Regions from separate parts of the Homo sapiens genome. Here region 1 is linked to region 2. The links come from fine-mapping of genetic effects on gene expression. A gene starts in region 2. The other region holds a variant in brackets. All regions are shown on one strand. Distances are from middle to middle. Region 1 overlaps KLK7 (kallikrein related peptidase 7). Region 2 holds the start of KLK11 (kallikrein related peptidase 11).

The links.
Region 1: its variant is fine-mapped to the expression of KLK11 in lung (TOPMed, PIP 0.96).

The regions. Positions count from the first base shown.
Region 1 is chr19:50,969,506-50,980,349 of GRCh38, forward strand. KLK7 (kallikrein related peptidase 7) reads right to left here. Exons shown (of 6, transcript NM_005046.4): 4 at 10,735-10,844; 5 at 10,283-10,419; 6 at 6,963-8,186. The coding sequence ends at 8,031. LOC105372442 (a long non-coding RNA gene) reads left to right here. Exons shown (of 7, transcript XR_007067308.1): 5 at 3,455-3,555; 6 at 3,676-3,828; 7 at 5,155-5,221. KLK6 (kallikrein related peptidase 6) reads right to left here and starts at 86. Exons shown (of 7, transcript NM_002774.4): 1 at 1-86. The variant T/C (reference allele first, on the strand shown) is at 7,342.
Region 2 is chr19:51,018,190-51,031,046 of GRCh38, forward strand. KLK11 (kallikrein related peptidase 11) reads right to left here and starts at 8,427. Exons shown (of 6, transcript NM_001136032.3): 1 at 8,349-8,427; 2 at 7,403-7,477; 3 at 6,449-6,605; 4 at 5,856-6,121; 5 at 4,903-5,039; 6 at 4,047-4,508. The coding sequence starts at 7,442. The coding sequence ends at 4,356. It overlaps KLK12 (kallikrein related peptidase 12), which reads right to left. Exons shown (of 6, transcript NM_001370125.1): 5 at 12,599-12,732; 6 at 10,905-11,268. The coding sequence ends at 11,113. KLK10 (kallikrein related peptidase 10) reads right to left here and starts at 1,520. Exons shown (of 6, transcript NM_145888.3): 1 at 1,438-1,520; 2 at 854-950. The coding sequence starts at 941. RefSeq lists enhancers at 7,506-8,064, 8,065-8,622, 9,182-9,738 and a silencer at 11,771-12,002.

The DNA of each region.
Region 1 (10,844 bases), 50 kb before region 2:
CTGTGTGCTGCCTGCCGACCTCTGTGTCCCCAGGAGAGAGCGAGCCAGCCAGCCGGGGAGACAGCTACAGCGTGTGTCACCACACTGGCCCCCGCCCCTGCCCCGGGCTGGGGAGCAGGCCCAGGCGCGATGGGGAAAGGGCCCAGGAACAATCGGGCTTTGTCCGCCCCCAGCACCCCAGTGCCATGCTCCCAGCAGCTCCGGCCTCAACCTCTCTTCCGGCGGGCAGGCGGGAGGGCGGTTACATCAATGGCTTCCTTTTGTCCCTGTCTGACAGTCCTCCTTTGCAGTCTCTGACTGCCCACCTGGCCCTGACTGGAGATTTCGGCACTCCACATCCTCCTGGTCCTTCTCCTCCAAGTCTGCCCACCCCTGAGGTCTCTTGCTCCATCTGTCTCCCTGGCCATGGAGGGGAGGGAGCTTCCATCTCTCTCTCTCTCCCATCTCAGTCTCTGTATTTGTGTCTCTCTCCCTCTTTTTTTCTCTCTCTCCCTTCCTCTCTCCCTTCCTCTCTCCCTTCCTCCCTTCCTTCCTTCCTTCTTTCTTTCCTTCCTTCTTTTCTTTCTTTCTTTCTTTTTTTTTGACGGAGTCTTGCTCTGTCACTCAGGCTGGAGTGCAGTGGTGTGATCTCAGTTCACTGCAACCTCCGCCTCCTGAGTTCAAGCAGTTCTCCTGCCTCAGCTTCCCAAGTAGCTGGGATTACAGGCACCCACCACCACGCCCGGCTAAATGTTTTTTGTATTTTTAGTAGGGAAGAGGTTTCACCATGTTGGCCAGGCTGGTCTCAAACTCCTGACCTCAGGTGATCCACCCACCTTGGCCTCCCAAAGTGCTGGATTACAGGTGTGAGCCACTGTGCCCGGCCTCTCTCCCTTTCTTTCCCCTTGATTCTCTGACTCTCCGTGCTTATCTTCTCCTGGGTCTCTTCTTAGATTTCCCCGGGGGTAGCACTGTGTGTGCCCAGAAGGGAGTCAGTTTCCCCAGGAAGTAGCGGGGATGATTCCCGAGCGATGAGGAAGCTAGCAGGATGGAAGAGGACTTGAGGACTTATTGATGAGATGCGGACACACAGCGAGAGGCATGGAGTTAAGCAGAAATCGGAGAGCACTTGGGAACGACGTGGGGCTGTGATAAGATGGTGGTGCTGGGCAGTAGCAGAGGGATCTGGGAAGATTTAGGGAGGTGTCTTTGAACTTGGGCCTAGAAAGCTGAGCCAGGCGTAGGTCAGGAGGAAAGGCCGTGAAAATGCCTGGCCTGGGTGCACATGGGAAACCACAGGCAGTGGTTGGGGTGGTTGGTATGGGCTGGAGGGTGAGGGTGTGTGCGTGGCAGAGTGGAGAGAAATGAGGAGGGGGAAGTCACTGCGTAATAAGGACAATGATAGGAATGAAGTCTGGCTCAGCACCTGCTTGGGCTGGGCACTACAGGTAACTTAAAAAAAAAAGTTCTTTTTTCTTTTGAGACAAGGTCTTGTTCTGTCGCCTAGGCTGGAGTGCAGTGGCACGATCCTTGCTCGTGGCAGCCTCAACCCTCCTGGGCTCAAGCGACCCTCCCGCCTCAGTCTTCCCAGGAGCTGGGACCATAGGCATGAGCCACTGTTCCCAGCCAACCCTTTTCTTTGTCTTGCATTGAATCTAATTGTCATCTTGCATTGTGCACCCCCCATCACTCCAGGGATGAAGACTACTTCGGTATTCAGTATACTCTCCGGGTGCTCCCTCTCACATTTGGTCCCCACTGACCTCAGCACCTTCTTCTCAGGACGTGCTATCTTCACAGACAGCAAGTCTGATGTTGCACAACCCAGTGACCAGGCCCTATCCCTCTGCCTCCTCTCTCTGGGGGGTCCCTTCCTCTCTGTACCCACACCCTCAACCCCAACTCAGAGCTGCACCTCTCCCACCTGGACCAGGATCCCTCTGTTCTCTGTATCCCTTGCCCCAGAGAGACCTTCCTGTGCCTTGTGCTGACCTTGCCCCTCCTCTCACAGACGTGCCCTGGGTCCCCATCTCCCTTGGGACCAAGTCCCAGCCCCCCAGCCTGGCATTTGAGGACCTTTAGCATCCAGGGAAGTCCTGGCCAATGAAATGTGATGCCAAGCACGCATGCACATTTACATTTTCCAATCACCATACTTTTTTTTTTAAGTCAGAAGATTTTTTAAGTGTCCTTACCACAAAAAATAAGGGTGTAAAATAATGCATATGTTAAATAGCTTGGTTTAGCCATTCCACAACATATACATACATATATCAAACATGATGTTATACACCAGAAATATATACAATTTTTACTTGTCAATTAAAAAATAAATTTAAGGCCAGGCATGGTGGCTCATGTCTGTAATCCCAGCACTTTGAGAGGCCAAGGTGGGTAGATAGCTTGAGTCCGGAAGTTCATGACCAGCCTGGGCAACATAGTGAGAAACCATCTCTGCAAAAAGTAAAAAAATTAGCCAGATGTGGTGGTGCACACTTGTAGTCCCAGCTACTCCGGAGGCTGAGGCGGGAGAATTGCTGAGCCTGGGAGGTCGAGCCTGCAGTGAGCTGTGACTATACCACTGCACCCCAGCCTGACATGGCTGGGCAAGGTGGCTCATGCCTGTAATCCAAGCACTTTGGGAGGCAGAGGTGGGAAGATCACTTGAGCCTAGGAGTTCGAGACCAGCCTGGACAATATAGTGAGACCCTATCTCTAAAAAAAAAAACAAAAAAAAGAAAAGAAAAAAATTACCTAGGTGTGGTGGCACACATCTGTGGTCCCAGCTATGCAGAAGGCTGAGGTGGGATAGTTGCTTGAGCCTGGAGGCCCAGGTTGCAGTAAGCCATAATCACGCCACTGCACTTCAGTGTGACAGAGCCAGACCCTGTCAAAAATTTTTTTAAAAGGAGTCCTGAGTGGTGAGTGGCCCTCACACTGCATGACACAGCTATGTCTACGTCTCCGTGTGGCTCCAGCTTTCTAGAACACATCAAGCTTCCCTGACCCATGCCATGCCCTCTGGCCTCTGGCCCTTCACTGAATGCTATTCCCTCTTCTTCTTGAGATGGAGTCTCGCTCTGTCGCCCAGGCTGGAGTGATGTGGCGCGATCTCTCTTCGCCTGCTGGGTTCAAGCAATTCTCCAGCCTCAGCCTCCCGAGTAGCTGGGATTACAGGCACACACCACCATGCCTATATTTTTAGTAGAGATGGGGTTTCACCATGTTGGCCAGGCTGGTCATGAACTCCTGACCTCAGGTGATCTGCCTGCCTCGGTCTCCCAAAGTGCTGGGATTACAGGCGTGAGCCACCGTGCCTGGCCTATTCTCTCTTCTTAGCATGTTTTCCCCACCTTTTCCTGGCAATAACCTGTCCTTCAAGTCTTTACTTGGACATTACCTCCTCCAGGAAACCTTCCCTGAACACCACCCAGCTGCCACCTGCTGTAGTTGGATTACTCATTCTCTCACGTAGGTTCCCACAGCAGGTGTCTCCCTCAACCCAACCTGGACGGGGGGCCACCTGGATTGACATTCGTCATCTCTTCCACTGGACCGTGAGCTCCTTGAGGGCAGGTACGGGACTGACTCATCCCTGTGTCCCAAGCAACCACACAGGACCTTGCCCAGAAGAAGCCTTAGGCAAGACTGACCAAATGACTAAATGACTTTATCACACCCACTCCCATTTTACAGATAAGAAAACTGAGGCTCAGAACGGGAAGTTCATTGCTCATCATCAAACATCCAGGAAATGGTGGAGCCTGAATGGGAACTCAGCTTCCAACATGGCGTGGATGTGGCCCATCCCTTGGTGGCCTGGCTGGGTCTATCTTATGACAGTACGAGGTGAGTGAACTTGGGAGGAATTGTTGAGAGCTGGGTGGGGAAAGAAGGGAGGTGTTAGGCTGTGGGGAGTGGAGGGACTTTGAAGAGAAAGAAATTTCTAACTCTACCTCTTCTCTGGTGACCTTCATGGTTTGCCATCTCTGCATACTTTGAATGCTTATTTACTGGATAGTTTGCTCCAGATTGTCTTGCTCTGCAAAACTCTTCACTAAATAAATTCTTCTGTCTCGGTGCAGTGGTTCACACCTGTAATCCCAGCACTTTGGAGGGCTGAGGTGGGAGGATTACTTGAGCTCAGGAATTAGAGACCAGCCTGGACAACATAGTGAGACCCCGTCTCTACTAAAAAAAAAAAAAAAAATCAGCCCAGGCATGGTCCCAGCTACTCGAAAGGCTGAGGCAAAAGGATTGTTTGAGCCCAGGAGACTGAGGCTGCAGTGAGCTATGATCATGCCACCAAACTCTAGCCTGGATGATAGAGCAAGACCCTATGTGAAAAAAAGAAAAAAAAAATTATAAGGAAACTTCATGAGACTGTAAGCAGAAAAAAGTGCCAGAAGTCATAAACAATAAAAACCAATGCCTGGGCCAGGCGCGGTGGCTCATGCCTGTAATCTCAGCACTTTGGGAGGTCAAGGCGGGCAGATTGCCTGAGGTCAGGAGTTTGAGGACAGCCTGGCCAACGTGGTGAAACTTGGTCTCTACTGAAAATACAAAAATTAGCCGGGCATGGTGGCAGGCACCTGTAATACCAGCTACTCAGGAGGCTGAGGCAGGAGAATCACTTGAACCTGGGAGGCAGAGGTTGCAGTGAGCTGAGATCGCGCCATTGCACTCCAGCCTGGGTGACAAGAGCAAGACTTTGTCTCAAAAAAAAAGAAAAACTAAACTAAACTAAACTAAACTAAAACCAATGACCATTGAAGGAAGGCTTACCTCGTGCCACACAATGTTTGAGCACTTTCTGTATATTAACTTATTGAATCTCTGTAATAACCCTAGAAAGTAGGTGCTTTTTCTCCCATTTCAAGGATGAAGGAACAGGGACAGGGGAAGTAATGAGCTTAAAGGAAAATAGCTTGTAGGGACTAGAACTGGGATTTGAACCCAAGAAGCCAAGATCCAGAGCTAGTCCCTTAACTACCACACTATACTGCTTACCCAAAGAAAAATGAATTACTTAAAAAAAATCAACATTAGTACCATCTCAGTCATTGCAAACCAATCTACCTGTAGCTTGCGTATAGGAGAGCAGAGGGCCAGGGCCAGGGATCTCCAGGCTGACTTAGTGCAAATGCAATGTTTTGTTACTTTTTAAAATTCCAGATTGAATGTTGGAGTGCCTTGCAGAAGAGAGAGAAAATGTTGCTAAAACTTCAGGGGAATGACTGGTCGAAAATGTTTGACATTCTTAAACTTGACAGGCCCAGAAACAGAAGGGGCTGGGGACCTGGGCTCCTGGGTCTGAGGGAGGAGGGGTTGGGGCGGGGGGTCTGGACTCTTGGGTCTGAGGAAGGAGGGGCTGGGGGGGAGCCTGGACTCCTGGGTCTGAGGGAGGAGGGGTTGGGGCGGGGGGTCTGGACTCCTGGGTCTGAGGAAGGAGGGGCTGGGGGGGATCTGGACTCCTGGGCCTGAGGGAGGAGGGGCTGGGGGGAGTCTGGATTCCTGGGTCTGAGGGAGGAGGGGCTGGCGGCGGGGAGCGGTCTGAACTCCTGGGTCTGAGGGAGGAGGGGCTGGGGGGAGTCTGGACTCCTGGGTCTGAGGAAGGAGGGGCTGGGGGCGGTCTGGACTCCTGGGTCTGAGGGAGGAGGGGCTGGCGGGGGGGGGGGTCTGAACTCCTGGGTCTGAGGGAGGAGGGGCTGGGGGTAGTCTAGACTCCTGGGTCTGAGGGAGGAGGGGCTGGGGGGGAGTCTGGACTCCTGGGTCTGAGGGAGGAGGGGCTGGGGGGGAGTCTGGATTCCTGGGTCTGAGGGAGGAGGGGCTGGCAGGGGGGTCTGAACTCCTGGGTCTGAGGGAGGAGGGGCTGGAGGGAGTCTGGATTCCTGGGTCTGAGGGAGGAGGGGCTGGTGGGGGGGGTTCTGAACTCCTGGGTCTGAGGGAGGAGGGGCTGGGGGGAGTCTGGATTCCTGGGTCTGAGGGAGGAGGGGCTCGTGGGGGCAGGCCTGCACTCCTGGGTCTGAGGGAGGAGGGGCTGGGGCTGGTCTGGACTCCTGGGTCTGAGGGAGGAGGGGCTGGGGGGAGTCTGGATTCCTGGGTCTGAGGGAGGAGGGGCTGGGGTTCTGGACTCCTGGGTCTGAGGGAGGAGGGGCTGGGGGGAGTCTGGATTCCTGGGTCTGAGGGAGGAGGGGCTGGGGGGTCTGGACTCCTGGGTCTGAGGGAGGAGGGGCTGGGGGCCTGGACTCCTGCGTTTTCTGTGTTAGCCTCCTATATGGGAGAATCAGAATTAGCGGCTGCAGAATTTCTGCAATATGACAGGGCTGTGGTGCCTGGGTTAGGAGAGACTCAGAGGGAGATGAGATAAGGAGGGGAAGGATCTGGAGGATCTTGGTGGGGAGGGAATTCTGGGAGAAAAACAGGAAGAACAGGTAGGAGGGCGTGTCCTGGGCTGGAGTGGCTCCTCGGTCAGCAGCGTCTGAGGTGTGACCACACAGAGGATCTTTGATGTTAGATGGCTGGGGCTGTGGCCAGGCTCTGAGTCACAGAGGACTCCTCCCTCATCCTACCCGCTTCCCGAGGTTCCTTTCCCTCCCTTCTTGGGGAGCAGGTGCCACCATCTTCCTCCGGCACTGTTTGCTTACTTCTGGCAGACCCCCGTGGGACCCCTGTGTCCTGTCTACTGTCATCCCAATCCCTCTGAAAACCGCCAGCCTCCCTCCTCACTTGTCACTCGTGAGATGCTCAGAAACACTTTCACACCCCTTCCCACGCTGATGAAGTTGGCCTGTTCTCTCCTCCCTCCTCCCTTCCTTCTTCCTCTCTCCATCCTTTCCTCTCTCTCCCATTTTACAGACAGGAAAAACTGAGATCTGGGAAATGGAAATATGCCCTGGAACAGGGCCGGCAGGACCAGGGCTCAAAACCAGGCACATATTTCTTTCTAGTCTCCCTTCCTGAAAGGTCACCTCTCTCCAATCTTAGATCTTCAGACTTTTTTCCCCACCTTTATTTTTCATGTTATAAAAGTGCACATTCAAGGAAAAGTACACAGAAGGAAGGAGACACCTCATGACGACCCCAGTATGCAGTCTGGGACATGTGTTTTCAGATCTGATTCTGTGAATATTTCATTTTTTATGGGTAGGGTCACATACATATATATTTTTGTCCTTCCTTTTGTCATTTAACATCCTATAGCCTAAATGTTCTTGAATAATACTGACAATTCTGTCTAAGTATCATTTTTAATAGGTTTGTAATATCATTGTGGGCTGGCCGTGGTGGCTCATGCCTGTAATCCCAGCACTTTGGGAGGCCAAGGTGGGTGGATCATCTGAGGTCAGGCGTTCAAGACCA[T/C]GCTGGCCAACATGGTGAAACCCTGTCTCTAGTAAAAATACACAAAAAATTAGCCTGGTGTGGTGGTGCACACCTGTAGTCCCAGGTACTTGGGAGGCTGAAGCACGAGAATCACTTGAACCCAGGAGGCGGAGGTTGCAGTGAGCCAAGATTGCATCACTGCATTGCAGCCCAAGCAACAGAGACTCTGTCTCAAAGAAAAAAAACATCGTTGTGCCAAGCCAGACTATTATTTAAGCCATCTGGTACTTTTGGAACATGTTTGATGGTTTCACTTCATTTCTGTGATAAATAATATCATGGTAAATTCAAGTCTTGTTCTACATTTTGGATTTTTTTTGTTTCAGTAGGTTCTTCCTAAGATTAGAGTTACTGGGTCAAAGGTGGTGAATAAGGGTCTCGGTGTACGTTGACCAAGTGTCTTCCGTAAAGACTGTACGAACGTCCAGTTCCAGTGTTTGAGAGTGCTGGTCTCACTGACTCTTCTCCAGCACTGAGGGTTTTGTGTTTCTTTATTTGTTTTGGTTTTAGGTCTTTACCAATTTGATTGGTTTATCAACAGGGCATGAGGTTGGTTTAAATATATCTTTGAGGAAAGGTAAAGTCAAATTTGACTTCATAGGTCATCGGCGTCCTCACTCCTGTGCATTTTCTGTTGGAAGCACACAGTTAATTAACTCAGTGTGGCGTTAGCGATGCTTTTTCATGGTGTCATTTATCCACTTGGTGAACTTGCACACTTGAGTGTAGACTCCTGGGTCATTGGGTTGGCCGCAAGGGAAAGTTCCCCAGGACACCAGACCTTGCAGGGTACCTCTGCACACCAACGGTCCCCCTGAGTCACCCTAGAGGGAATAGAGCCGGAGATTAACTTTGGCTTCAGATCAAAGCCCAACTCATTCTCATACATTCCTCAGTTATCGGTCTTTGTCTTGCAGATTATGGACTTCCACCATAGCCAATGAGAAGAGACTCATTGTCTCTGGGGACTAATGGGAGAGCTAGTGCTAGGGACACACTAGGTCCTTTGAAGACACTGGTTTGACCCTTGGCCAATGAGACCAATTGCAGAGAAGGGGTGGGGCTTCCAGGATCAGAGCACTCTTTATTTTCCAATGTTAAGGACCCTGCTCCAAGCTAGTGGGAGAAGGAACATCATCTCCAAGGGGTGGATGCGTGCCCTGTGGCGCAGGAAAGGGGGACACGATGGTCTCGGAGACCAGGGTGAAGACCAGTTACATAATTTACAGGACTTGGTGCAAAACGAAAATGCAGGGCCCTTTGTTCAAAAATTATTGAGAATTTCAAGACAACAGCAGGAATGCATTAGACTAAGTTTGAGACCCTTCTGAGTGTGGGGCTCTGTGTCCGTGCAGAGCTTGCACATTCATGAAACTGGCCCTCACCAGGGGAGAAGGGGAACACCCTATTCTCTAGGACAGTCATCTCTCTCCCATCTCCTCTATCCCTAACACTCACCATCCCACATCCCCTGACAGCTGAAGGTGCAGATGTGAGCAAGGAGGATGGGTGTGGAGAGACAGAGAGAGTTGGAGGTGGAGAAGAAAGAGGGAAAGGAGAGAGAGACAAAGAGAGATGAGGAAGAGGGAAAGGGTATGGGGAGAGAGAGAGACAGAGAGATGGGGGTGGAAAAGAAGGAGGGAGAAGAGAGACAGACAAAGAGATGAGGGAGATGGGGAGGGTGTGGGAAGAGAAGAGAGAGAGAGATGGGGGTGGAGAAGAAAGAGGGAGAAGAGAGAGACAAAGAGAAAGGGGGGGAAGGTGTGGGGAGAGAGATGGGGTGGGGGTGGGGAGAGGAGAGAGAGACTGGAAGAGAGGAGGAGAATAAAGAGAGAGAAAGAAAGACAGAGATGGGGGAGCGGCAGGGAGAGGAGAGAGATAGAAGAAAGAGAAAGAGAGAGACAGTAAAAAGGAGGGGGCAAGGAGAGATGAGGGAGAGAGATGAAGAGAGACAGAGAAGTGGGGGAGAGAGAGAAAGAGGAGAGGGCCAGAGAGGAGACAGAGAGAGAGGAAAAAAGAGAGAGCAGGGGGGCAGGGAGAGGAGAGAGGGAGGGGAGGAGAGAGAGAGAAGCAAGAGAAAGAGGGAGAAGACAGAGAGCAGAGAGGAGGGCATGGAGAGAGAACAAGGGAGGGAGAGCAAGCTAGCTCAACACAGAGAAAAAACAAAGAGGAAAAGAATGAAATGAAATTATGTCACAAAGAGAGATGTGGGAAGACTGTTCAGAAACAGAGGGGATGACAAAAGGCCAGAAAGAGGGAACAGAGAGGAGGTGGAGAGAAAGAGTGTTTTCCCCGGGACCAGGGCCAGGGTCAGGTGAGTGAGTCATCAGCTTCAGGCACAAAATCTCAGTAACTGCAATACACAATACTTCAATGCAGTACTTAACGAAATCAAATGTAATACATAAAACTGCATGATGGGCATGGTATCCACATTTTAAATGAAGACAGTGCCAGTACAGCGCTGTGCTGAGCCACGCTAGTACTTACGGCAAGGGAAAATTCAGTAAGATCCACCTGCTCTTTATTTAAAATGTGACATTTTGTCCATCATGGACTTCTGCATGAGTTTTTATTTTTATTTTTAAATATTGCATTATGATTTATCTCAATCACTGAGGTTTTTGGTGCCCCCTTAAGGTTTGGGCCTGAGGCCAGCACCTCAGTCTCCTTCCCTGGTCCCACCCCCACTTTCTCACCCCTATTAAACTCTCTGTCTCATCCCCAGGGCCACATTGGCCCCTAAGTAAACTCCCACCCCTGACCTAGGCAGAGAATGAGGTGGAAAAAGCTGAGGAGGCCAGGCCTGGGGGGAGGGCAAGGCCGGGCTTGGTACCCAGTCACTCGGGTCAAGCTCTGTCCCTGGGGCATGCAGACAGGGTACCCAGGACTGGGGAGGAATTGGGGGGGAGGGTCTCACATTGCAGGCGTTTTTCTTGGAGTCGGGGATGCCAGCGCACAGCATGGAATTTTCCAGTAAGTCCTTGTAAACCTTCGTGCAGTCCTGGGGGGAGATGAGCTTGACATCCACGCACATGAGGTCAGAGGGAAAGGTCACTGCAGGGAGGAGCAGGGAGAGCTGTCAGTCAGAGAGGATGGGGGCGAGGACCAGAAGGGCTGTTGTTCAGGCTCCTGGTTCCGAGGGAGGAGGGTCTGGGGCCCAGGACTGCTGGGTCTGAGGGAGGAGGGGCTGGGGTCTGGACTCCCGGGTCTGAGGGAGGAGGGGCTGGGGGCCTGGACTCCTGGGTCTGAGGGAGGAGGGGCTGAGGCCTGGACTCCTGGGTCTGAGGGAGGAGGGGCTGGGGGCCTGGACTCCTGGGTCTGAGGGAGGAGGGCTGGGGCCTGCACTCCTGGGTCACTGAGGCCACCTACCATCTGGGCTCGTGGTAGTGCCCCAGCCGGAGACAGTACAGGTGGTTCCAGGGGGTTCGCAGCGGGAGGGCAGCCTGACTTTCTTCACCATGGATGACAGCCTGGCCTGG
Region 2 (12,857 bases):
GGAAAGAAAAAGAGAGAGAAAGAAAAAAACAAGAAAGAAAGAAGAAAAAATAAGAGAGAAAGTAAAACAAGAAAGAAGAAACAAACGAAAGGAAGGAAGGAAAGGAAGGAAGGAAAAGAAGAACGAAAGAAAGAAAAGAAAGAAAGAAAAAGAAAAAAGAGAGAGAAAGGGAAAGAGGAAGAAAAAAAGTGAGGGGAGAGGGCAAAAAGCGGTAAGGCAAGACTCAGGATAAAACACGGTGGTGTGGCCGGGAGCGGTGGCTCACGCTTGTAATCCCAGCACTTTGGGAGGCCGAGGCAGGCGGATCACGAGGCCAGGAGATCGAGACCACGGTGAAATCCCATCTCTACTAAAAATACAAAAAACTAGCCGGGCTTGGTGGCGGGCGCCTGTAGTCCCAGCTACTCGGGAGGCTGAGGCAGGAGAATGGTGTGAACCCGGGAGGCGGAGCTTGCAGTGAGCCGAGATCGCGTCACTGCACTCCAGCCTGGGCGACAGAGCGAGACTCCGTCTCAAACAAACAAACAAACAAAACAAAACACGGTAGTGTAAAATGGAGCGGGGCCGGGATGGGGCGGCGTAAGAGGAGGAGAAAGAACGCGGCGAAGAGTCCACGGAAGAGCGAGGATCCGGGTGGCAGAAATCGGACAGGGCCTGAGTGGGGCGGGTCACCCAGGGGCCGAGCCAGAAGAAGGGCCCAGCTGACTTGGGGGCGGGCCGTGCTCCGGAGCGCTGGGTGGGTGCTGGGGTCTCGGGGGAGGAGAGGTGCGCGGGGCTTGGTGACGGGAACACATTCTCCTCCCGCCCGTGCCTCCCACCGGCGCCTCTCCCCGCCCCCTGCCCCCGACCTTACCCCAGAGTTGCGCCATCAGCAGCGGCAGCAGCTTCGCCAGAGCCCGGGCGCCAGAGGCGGCGGAGAGGTGGAGGTGCGGAGCTCTCATGGCCAGGATCTGCTGGGGTGTGTGCAGGGGCGGGTTAAAACAGATGCTCCGTTAGAGACCCCCACCTCGCCGCGCTCATCCGCCCAGCCTGGGCCACCCCAGCCCGCAAGCACCCTTTTGACCTGCAGCCGATAACCCCAGGGGCTGGCAGACGGGAGATTCGGGCTGGAACAGCGGTAATGGGCACAATTACCCTAATGACGCCCCTCGCGGCATCTTCCCGTCCTCCCTGTGCCCGAGTGGAGCGCTCTCCGCGCCCCAGCTACCCTGGCTGCAGCCACGCCGCGCCCGAGGTTTCCCCCTCCTTCACGCGCGGGGTGGGGATCCGAGGCTCGGAGCCAGTGGGAGCCTCTTTCTCAACCTCACAGCGGGGGGACTTCCGCGTCCCGCAGGTGGAGAAACCGAGGCTCTAAGCCGGCTCCTGCCTGTGGCCCGGGGGTCCCCACCCATCCTCTCGCAATCCACCCCAACCCGGGTGGGGTGCAGGTAGCTTCACCTGGGAGTCGCCGATAGGAAGGAGGGAGGGGACCCAGACGTGCCTCTGCCCTGCCTGTGGTCTGCCGCTGGTATCCTCTGCCCAGGGACCCCTGGCGGGACCTTCCCTTTTAACCCCAAGGAGTCCGGAAGCTTCTCCACCCTCCCCTACCCCCACCCCCGGGCTCCCTCCCTTTCCCTCTGTCTAATTGTACCGTGGGTGAGGCTGGCACTCCTGGGTCCCAGATTCCTGCTCTGGGAGGGGCCCTGGAATACAGGCTTCTCCCAGTGCCCGAAACGCCCCCTTTTCATCCCTTTTGGAACTGGCTTCCGTGGGGATTCTCCGGGTCCCGGTGCCAAGAAGGCTTCCCAGGCGCGGGGAGAGGGTTCACGTCCCCAGCAAGGCTAGGGGTGGCAGGATGAGAGGCCACTGAGCAAGAGGAAATCAATGGGAAGTGCATACCTAGAGTGACAATGTGAGAAGCCAGACTGTGGAAGAGGAAGGAGGAAGGCCTAGAGATAAAGCAGGTTGAGTAGGAGGGACAGAGGCTGGCTTGAAAAGGGAGATTGTAACAAACCAAGGCTAAAAGAGCCAGAGAGAGAGAGAGAGAGAGAGAGAGAGAGAGAGAGAGGGAGGGAGGGAGGCGCCGAGGCTAAGAGAAACAGAAACAAGGAAAAAGGGAAACCCACGCCCACTCTGTGGCCGTGAGTGAGCTCTGTGTGTGTCCCAGTGACTAGCCCATGTGCGTGTTGGGGGGGGCTGTGGCTCTGCCTCATACCCATGTGTGGCCATCTCACACCCTCCCTGCCATCTGTGTGCCACCAGGTGACACACAGGCCCCTGAATCATAGGAGGTCAAAGCTGTGAGGGGCATCGGCATCACCTCAGCCAACTCCCTCATCTCAGGTGAGGAGTGAGAGGCTCAGAGAGGGCAGAGACTCACAGGAGGTCACACAGCAAGTCCACTTGACAACCAGAAGGCCCTGGTTCCACTCTGGGCTCCTATTGCTCATGCCAGCCACTTCTGCGAGGTGAACAGACCATCCCAAAAGATCCTGAGCTGGCCGGGCGCGGTGGCTCACGCCTGTAATCCCAGCACTTTGGGAGGCCAAGGGGGGGCGGATCACGAGGTCAGGAGTTCGAGACCAGCCTGGCCAACATAGTGAAACCCCATCTCTACTAAAAAGACACAAAAATTAGCTGGGGATGTTGGCACAGGCCTGTAGTCCCAGCTACTAGGGAGGCTGAGGCAGGAGAATTGCTTGAACCTGGGAGGCAGAAGTTGCAGTGAGCCGAGATCACGCCACTGCACTCCAGCCTGGGTGACAGAGCAAGACTCTGTCGCAAAGAAAAAAAAAAAAAAAGATCCTGAGTTCTGGATTCTCTCCGTGGGACATCCTCTTCAGAGGCCATCTAACTCAGTGCTGCTCAGCTGAACTTTCTGCAGTGATGTTTTATATGCACTAGCTAATCCAGCCACCACCAGTCACATGTGGCTATCCAGCCTTGGAGATATAACAAGTGAGACAGAGGAGTTACATTTCTGGCTTTATGTAATTTTAATTGGAAGAGCCAGCTGCGGTTAGTGGCTACCATATTGGCCAGCAGAGGTCTCCACTATCTAATTACCTATCATGGAAGTTGGAGAAAAACAATAAGCTCCTTTGGTTAGGTCTTAGTATGTGCAGGCTAACTGACTTCTTTACTTACTGTGTTATACTTTTGCATGCAGCATTTTACAGGAAAGGAAACAAACAGAGCCTTACTCCAGGAACATCACTTGGTAATTAAGAGATCGCCTTGCTTCAGATCCTTGCTCTCCTAGCCACGTGACTGTGAGCAAGTGACTTTGCTTCTCTGTGTCTGTTTCTTCAACTATAAAATAGGTATGAAAACAGTACCGACCTCACAGGGTTTTGTGAGGATTAAGTTGATACATTTGAAAGTGCTTGGAGGCCAGGCACAGCGACTCATGCCTGTAATCTCACCACTTTTGGAGGCTGAGGAGGACAGACTGCTTGAGCCCAGGAGTTTGAGACTAGCCGGGGCAACATACTGAGACCTCTGTCTCTACGAAAAATACAAAAATTAGCTGGGCTTCGTGGCATGTGCCTGTAGTCCCAGCTACTCTGGAGGCTGAGGGAGGACAATCACTTGACCCCAGGAAATTGAGATTGCCGTGAGCTGTGATTGTTACTGCACTCCAGCCTGGGCAACAGAGCAAGACTGTCTCCTAAATAGATTAATTAATTTAATTTCTTTTAATTAATAAATGAAAGCCGGGCGGGCGCGGTGGCTCACGTCTGTAATCCCAGGAGTTTGGGAGGCCAAGGAGGGCAGATCATCTGAGGTCAGGAGTTCGAGACCAGCCTGGCCAACATGGTGAAGCCCCATCTCTACTAAAAAATACAAAAATTAGCCGGATGTGGTGGTAGGCACCTGTAATCCCAGCTATTCAGGAGGCTGAGGCAGGAGAATTGCTTGAACCCAGGAGGTGGAGGTTGCAGTGAGCAGAGATAGCACCACTGTACTCCAGCCTGGGTGACAGAGCGAGACTCTGTCAAAAAATAAAATAAAATAAAAGCCATTGGATCAGGGTCTAGCACATAGTAAGCACTCAGTAGATTCACTCATTTAGCAAATATTTATTGAAACCTTGATATATGGCCAGGAGCTGTCTTTGGGGCTGGGGATACAACAGAGAACAAACCAGGTGTTGTCATTCCCAGAGTCACAATATTTCAAGGCAGAATTTGAATCCAGGTCTCACTGATTTCGAACCCCAGGTTGATTATTAAGTGACAGCATCTCCTGTAGTCCAGGAGGCCCAAAGAATGTTCGTAGAGGGTCTTGGCTTAGGGTTTCTTATTAACAGAGTGAACAGGAACCAAACACCAAGTGGAAATGGAGGGTGATGGGCTGTGGTGGGTGGGTCCAGTCTAATTGTTCTTCATCGTCTCCTGGATCCAGTCCACATATTTGCAGACTTTCGTGTAGACACCAGGCTTTCGGGTGATCGCACACGGATCCTGGCCCCAGGAGATAATGCCTTGAAGAGACTGGTTACAGACCAGAGGGCCCCCGGAGTCACCCTGGGCACGGGGAGAGAGAATGTCGGTCAGAGAAAGCGTTGAGCATGGTGTTAGCCAGGGAGGAGGTGGGGACGGTGCTTAGGAGTGGGGCCGAGACAGGATGGGTAGGCACTGGGAAAGGTGATAGGTTTAGCGATAAAGCTGGGATTATGGGTGGGATAAAGGATGGGGTTAGGCTCAAAAACGAGTTTGGGGATGGTTGGAGCTGGAAATGGTGTGGAAACGGGGATGGAGCTGAAGTTTGTGCTGAGGTCAGAAACGGGAACAGGGGAAGAGATGGATTGGGAGTTGCAGGGGTCGGCGGGTTGAGGTTGGGGATGAAATTGTGGATGTCGGTAAAGATGTCATTGAAGCTGGGGATGGGGATGGGGCTGTGGTTGGAGACCACACTGACCTGGCAGGAGTCCTTGCCCCCTTCCTGCACGCTGGCACACACCATGGTGTCTGTGATGTTGCCGGGGTAGGCGTTCTCACACTTCTGGTGCTCAATGATGGTGATGTTGGCGCATCGCAAGGTGTGAGGCAGGCGTACTGTGGAAACAGCGTGAGGGGCTGTGGGAATGAGCCCCCTGCCACCTCCCCTAATGCAGTGCTTGCTGTGATCCCGCCCCTGGGGGAATCCCTGTCCTTAGACGCAGCCAACTCACCTCTCTTCTTGTAACAATAGCAACAGCAATGCTATCCAGCTTTTTTTTTTTTTTTTTCGAGACAGAGTCTTGCTCTGTTGCCCAGGCTGGAGTGCAGTGGCGTGATCTTGGCTCACTGCAACCTCCGTCTCCCAAGTTTAAGCGATTCTCCTGCCTCAACCTCCCGAGTAGCTGGGATTACAGGCGCACACAACCACGCCCAACTAATTTTCACATTTTTAGTAGAGATGGGATTTCACCACGTTGGCCAGGCTGGTATCAAAGTCCTGACCTCAGGTGATCTTCCCACCTCGGCCTCCCAAAGTGCTGGGATTACAGGCGTGAGCCACGGTGCCCAGCCTGCTATCCAATAAATGATTTATGTCAGTTGCTTGATATACATTATCTCTAATCCAATCCTGACAGGTGGGTATAATCATTCTCATTTTATAGAGAAGAAAATCAAGATTCAGAGAGGTGAAGCTGCTTGCCTAAGGTCTTACAACCAGGAGGTTATGGATGTATGATTGCATATCCCGTCCGTCTGACTCCAAGGCCCCAACTTTTGTCCCCACCCCCCTATCCTGACGTTTTCCACACATCCTCTCAACTTATCCCACATCGTCACTGTGAACCGCATCTCTGATGCCCTGAACCCTTCCACAATCCTGACCACTCCCTCCTCACCACCCCCTGCCAGGTTCCCCTCTGGTGCTCCTACACTGGGGGCTGGACGTGCTGCCCCAGCCGGAAATGAGGCAGCTGGTGCCAGCAGTGACACAGCGTGAGGAGAGGGTGAGGGGTCGCACAGCCCAGGTGATGGAGACTGGCGATGCCATCTTCACCAGCATGATGTCATTGCGGTGGTCTTTGTTGGGGAGGCTGTTGTTGAAGCCGGGGTGGGGGAAGGACTCAGTGGCTGTCCGGGTCTGCTCACAGCCCTCCTCCTTCTGGAGGTTGTGCTGCCCCAGGTGAACTATGTAGCGGCTGAGGTGGGAGAGACAGTAGTTGGAGGAGGAAAGGTCGGGGGAGACATGGGTGGGAGAGGTGAGTGACACCTTTGAGGATGAAGAAACATCGCTCTGCTTCCAACCTCTTCCACGTCTCCCACCGAAGCCCCCTTCCCAGCCATAGCCCCATCCCAACCCCATTCATCCCCCCACCTTCAATACCAACTCGAGCCCATCAACCTTGCTGACACTACCCATCCCCATCTCTAATCCCCTTACCAGCACCCCTATCCCTGAGCTTCTCTCCATCCATCTCCCCATTCCCAGCCCCCCACCCCGGCACCGCCCCAGCCCCCGCACCCACGGCTTGAGGCAGTGGGCTGCTGTCAGGAGCCATCTGGGGGCGATGAGCGTCGCCCCACAGAGTAGCCGCGTCTTCTCGAACAGGGCTGCCTGCCAGGGCTGGGAGTGAGGCTTGCACTCGAACCCCTTGATGATCCTGGTCTCTCCCCCTACAAGCCCTGGAGGGGGTGAGAGCAAAAGAAGGGGCTCAGGAAGGAGAGGTGGTAGACCAGGAGGACTCCCAGAAATGGGGGTGGGGAGGAGAGAAAGAGAGTGGGTGGTCTGGGCCCTGGTCTGGTGTCCCTCTGGGTTGCCCTGGATGCTGGGGTCGGGTATTAAAGGATGAAAATACTTCCATAAGGTCAAATGCAGTGGCTCATGCCTGTAATCCCAGCACTTTGAGAGGCTAAGGTGGGAGGATTACTTGAGCCCAGGAGTTCTAGATCAGCCTAGGCAAACATAGTGAGACCTCCTCCCCCATCTCTACAAACAATTAAACAATTAGCCTGGCTTGGTGGCAGGTGCCTGTGGTCCCAGCTACCGGGGAAGCTGAGATGGCTTAAGGATCACTTAAGCCCGGGAAGTCAAGACTGCAGTGAGCCGTGTTGGCACCACGGCACTCCAGCCTGGACAATAGAGCAAGACTTTGTCTCTGGGAAAAAAAAAAAAGGAAATACTTCCATACTGGTTGGTCAGTAGCCCCTGTCCTGGGCGCTTTGAGTGACTGCTCCCCCAACTCCAGCTTCCTCAGCCCCTCCACGGGACCCTTTACGACCCCCTTGACCTCTCCTCCTTTGGCATTTAAAGGGATTATCTAGAAGGGCATCCAGGCCCTCATGACCACTGCTCCAGTTCAGGTGCCTTATGGGTTGTTCTGTAATTTGGAATCAGCCCTGTCACTGTCCAGACACAGAGGGTTAGGGGATCCCAGAGATTCAAGAGGGAGGATCCTGCCCTGCCCCCATCCCCTGCGTACCTGTTGCCAGAGCAAGCAGGATTAACTGCAGAATCCTCATGGCCTGGAGGGGGGAGGAGCGGGCCCCAGGTTCCTCTGGGAACAAGGAGGGACATGGGGCCGCATCACTTTACGGGGAAATCGGGAGGGGGGGGCTGGCTCATGCCCTCTCCTCTCTCCCTCACCTGCTCCCGCTCCCCACTTGGGAGAAACAAGGTTGGGGAAATCCCCTGTTTCTCACAGCACTCAGATCTCCAAACACTTAAAATATATCTTAGGTGTCTAGGGTGGCCTTGGAGAGGGCCTGGTCACAGCTAGAAGCTTCCGAGATACCAAGAACCATGTGGAAGTCGTTGGGAGGGGCTTTGAGCTGTCAAGCCATGGTTCGGCCCTGTTCAAGTCAGCCATGGGACCTCCCCGGCACATGTCAGAGGATGTTTTCCTTCTTGCCTTGAGAGCTGGCCAGGCCCCAGCAGCTTGGGGTGGAAGGACAAGGGGAACCAGACACCGTTCCGTAGCCACCCCTTTTTCATTGTCTTCGCAGCAGAGCGATATGGAGCCTTTGAGGTCTGCTGGAGGGGAGTAGGGGGCTCAGCCCCAGACAATGTCTGGGACCCCCATCACCCGGCTTGCTGAAGCCCTGTCCGCCAAACCCCTGCCCTTTTGAAGGACAGCCAAGCAAAGCTGGGCGGGGCTGGTCGAGGGGAGGGCCAGTGCCCTCCGCTGCCCTGGCCAGCGGGGGTGGGAGCAGAGGGCCAGCTCAGCAGCTGAAGCCATGGAGATTAGAGGTAACTGAGGCTGCGGACAGCCATCGGAGGTGAGAGGTGTAGAGAGAGGCCAGGAACCCCCACCCAAGCAGAGAAGGACAGAGCAGAGGGAGAAATGGGTGCCCGAGTGGGACAGGTGTCCTTGGGGAGGGCTGACACCTGGACGGGGAGGGGCAGCTTCCCTTTCCTCCTGGACTCACAGGCTCTGGGGCTGGGGCTCTGGGGGCCCAGTGGCGGCGGAGACGGCAGTGGCGGCAGCTACAGCAGGTAGGCTGGGTTGGAGCGCCAGGTGCCAGGCACCAGGCAGGCGGGCTGGCAGGGGGGCGGCCCTGGGCGGGCCCAGGATGACTGGCCTCCAAGCCCTGCCTTAATGCCCCGGGGCGGGGTGTGTGTGAGGGCCCTCCCCGGAGGCCTCTGAGGCACTGGCTGCCTGCCTGTGCCACCTCTCCAAGCCCCTCTTCTCCCTGTGTCTCAGCCTCCCTCTGTCTGTCTGTCTGTCTGCAGCCTTCCTTTCCCTGCCCTGAGTCTCTGAATCTGTGTCTCGTTCTATGTGTCATTCCCTGTCATTCAGTAATTCTGACTTTGTGTGATTTTTCTCTTTCTGTCCCTATGTGTCTGTCTGCCTTTCTCTGTCCTCGTCCCTGTCTCCATCTCCACTCTTCTCTCTCTGTCTGGCTCTGTGTGGCCCTTTCTCTAATTCCTTCTATCTTTGTGTCTCTCAGTCAGTCTCTCTGACTGCATCTCTGGCAATTTGTCTTGAAATCCCTCTTCTTCCATCTAATCTCCGTCTCTCTTTTTCCTCCCGTCCCAGCCACTCCCTCTCCACAGCCCCAGCCCAGGTGGGCCCCTGGCCTCCCCTAGGCCGCTCCCTTCTCCTTTGCAAGGAGAGGGGGGGTGTGCTGGGATGTCACACAGGTGGGGCTGCTGCCAGGCACAGGGGCAGGACCGGAGGGTGGGGGAGGCAGGTCAGGGCCTGTGGAAGCCGAGTCCAGGAAAGGGAACAGAGCCCTTGGCTGTGCTCCACCCCAGGGCTCCTCTGGGGCCTCGCTCCTCTGCTGACCCTTCCCCTGCCCGCTTCTCCCTGCCGCCCAGGCAGCCCGAGTCCAGCTGTTCACTTACTGGCTGCTGTGAGACCTCTGCCCGATGACTTCCAGTCCCGCAGCCACCTCAACCTCTGCATCTGCGGAACCCGAGCGCAGATTCCTGCTTCTCCCAGCTTGTTTGTTTTCAGTTAGGTCCCTTCCCTTGGCTTTCCTCCCCTCTCTCCCCTGACCAGGTGTGGAGCAAGGCAGGGGAGGGCCTAGGTTCTGACAGCAGCCAGCCCTGGCCTCAAACCTAGGTGCTTCCTCTTCCTACTACTATGACTACCCTTATGACGTGGGGACAAGGGACTCCACCCCTGCAAGGCTCAGTTTCTTCATCTGAGAGATGGGGGTGACAGACCTGCTTGCAGGGGAGGTTGGGATCAGGCTTCCAGGAGGGTCCACTTGGAAAGAGCAGACTGCGGGGGGGCTCAGCAAATGTGCCTCCGCTGGTATGATCACCCCTCACTCCCTCCCTCCTCCAGTTTCCCTTCAGTGCATTTGGGGAGATGGTCTCTCCTCACCTCTTGAGTCCCAGTGGAGACAGAATCCAAGGGGTGGGCAGGAGGATTAAAGACGTAGGCTGAGCTCTCCTGCTTTCCAAGCCTGCACTCCACCCTTCGTCTTATTAGAACAAAGCCACGTCCCACATTAAAGATACAATGTATGCTTCATTACAAGAAAGTAAACTGCAGTTGGCTAGTGGAAAGAATGCTACGTTTTATGGACATTGGATTAAATGGTCATAAATGTTGACTTTGCAGCTTTCATCTGGTATTTTGGAGCTAACAATTTTCTTTTTCTTTTTCGGGTCTTTTGTGGACTCTTGAAAAGCTTATAAGCTCTGGGCACTATTTCTATTATGCCAGATGAAGAAACATGTGTCTTATTTATATTGCTGGGTTTTTGTTTTTGAGACAAGGTCTCACTTTATTGCCCAGGCTGGAGTGCAGTGGCATGATCTCGGCTCTTTGCAGCCTCCACCTCCCCGGCTCGGGTGATCCTCCCACCTCAGCTTCCCAAGTAGCTGGGACTACAGGCACGCACCACCACACCCAGCTAATTTTTTGTGTTTTTGTAGTGACAAGATTTCACTGTGTTGCCAGGCTGATCTCGAAATCTGAGCTCAAGCCATCCTCCCACCTCGGCCTCCCAAAGTGCTGGGATTACAGGCGTGGGCCACTGCACCCGGCCTATATTATTAAAAGTAACTTTTTCTACTCCATTTCTGAGTAACTACTCAGGGAAGACCCTCATCCTATTTGAGCACTGGGTTTTTTGTTTGTTTGTTTTTGAGATGGAGTCTCGCTCTGTCGCCCAGGCTGGAGTGTAATGGTTCAATCTCGGCTCGCTGCAGCCTCTGCCTCACGGGTTCATGCTATTCTCCTGTCTCAGCCTCCTGAGTAGCTGGGATTACAGGCATGCGCCACCATGCCTGGCTAATTTTTGCATTTTTAGTAGAGTTGGGGTTTCACTATGTTGACCAGGCTGGTCCCGAGTTCCTGACCTCAGGTGATCCACCTGCCTCAGCTTCCCAAAGTGATGGGATTACAGGTGTGAGCCACTGTGCCTGGCCTTATTTGAGCTCTGTTTCTACTCCTATGAGATAGGGAAACTGCTGAGTCCTTCTTCCAGTCTCAACCAGCATGAGGACTTCAAATGGACAGACATGGCCCCTCCTTCATTTATATTTATTCCAGACTATTGCACACTTCTCTCACCCCGCTCGTGGGTCTTAGAAGGGCTGGCAGGAGTTAAAGTTCCAAGAAGTTCCCAGGCCAACAAGAGTGGAGCTAGGGGAAGTGATGGAGGAGATATTGGTGCTCTGAGGGCCAGAGGGGTACCCAAGTTAAGGGGTGGGGGTGGAGGTGGAGGAAACAGGTCAGTTGTTCCTCATGATCATCCGGATCCAGTCCACATACTTGCAAATATAGGTGTAGACTCCAGGGATGCCATCTTGTCCACAGGGCCCCACAGACCCCCAGGACACCAGACCTTGAAGGACTCCCCCACACACCAGGGGGCCCCCAGAATCACCCTGGAAGGGAAGAGAAGTACTGTCTGAACAAGGGAGACATCTTATTTCTGTTTTCCTCCCCAACCCTTCAACCCAGTCCTGGGCCTTGGGGAGGGCTCCAAGTCTGGTCATTAGACAAAAGAGTATAATCACTTTCCCGGAGGACAATGGCAATGGCTAACCAAAAGAGAAGAACCACTGTCTCTAGGGGCCAATCCCAGGGAAGAAGGGTGGAACTCCATAAAGGACAGAGGTTCTCTCAAGGACAATGGCTGGGGCCCTGACCAATGAGGAGAGAGAGCACAGTCATTAATGACCAATCTCAGGGGAGGCTGTCAAGACAACATAAAGAGTCGAGCATTCTCTCAAGGACAATGGCTGGGGCCCTGACCAATGAGGAGAGAGAACACTATTATCAATGACCAATCCCAGGGGAGGAGGGTGGGACTCCATAAAGGATAGAGGTTCTCTCAAGGACAATGCCTGGGGTTCTGACCAATGAGGGGAGAGAGTGCCATCAAAAATGACCAATCCCAGGGAAGGTGGGCAGGACTCCATCAAAAGCACAGAGTTCTCTCAAGGACAATGGCTGGGGCCCTGACCAATGAGGGGAGAGACCGCCATCCTCAAATCTCTCTCAGTCTGGGACAGCACCAACTGGAGGATGGTATGGGAAAGACTTAGAGCCCCAGAAACAGCTGGTTCCCTGTCTGGGCTCCCAGTCCTCTCCGTCTGTTTTGCTGTCTCTCTCTGTAACCCCTGCCCCATCTTTCCTTCTCTGTTCCCTTCCTCCCTCTCTCTCCCTGCCCCTCCCCCTCCTCCATTCCCCGGTCCTCCCTTTTACTCCCTGTCTCTCTCCCTCCCTTATCCTGGGCCTCTCCTCCATTATTATTATTATTATTATTATTATTATTATTAATTATTTTGTTTTGAGACAGAGTCTGGCTCTGTCGCCCAGGCTGGAGTGCAGTGGCGTGATCTCAGCTCACTGCAACCTCCGCCTCCCGGGATCAAGCGATTCTCCTGCCTCAGCCTTCCAAGTAGCTGGGGCCACAGGCTTGCACCACCACCCCCGGCTAATTCTGGTATTTTTAGTAGATTCAGAGTCTCACCGTGTTGGCCAGGCTTGTCTTGAACTCCTGACCTCAAGTGATCCGCCCGCCTCGGCCTCCCAAAGTGCTGGGATTACAGGTGTGAGCCTCCGTAACCAGCCTCTCCCTTCCTTTTTGACCCCGTCTCTCTGCAGCATCCCCTTTCCCTGATTCATCCTCCATCAGTTCCCCTCCTGCTTCCAGCCCCTCCCCTTCACTTCCTGTCCTGGTGACCACGCACGCTGCCTGCACTGGCTCACCTGGCAGGCATCCTGCCCCGGGACGCCGCCTGCACACACCATGTTGCTCGTGATTCTCCCGGGATACACACCATGGCAGGTGGCATGGGAGACGATGGAGAGGTTGAGGCACTGGAGCAGATCCGGGAATGGGTCTGGAGAGAGAACATGCGTGCTGCAGGGTCCCCTAAATCTCCCCACTTTGAGGCCACGTCCCTCTTCCCTGGATGTGGCCCATCCATGTCAATACCCCTGCCCCTCACCGACCTGTACTACAATC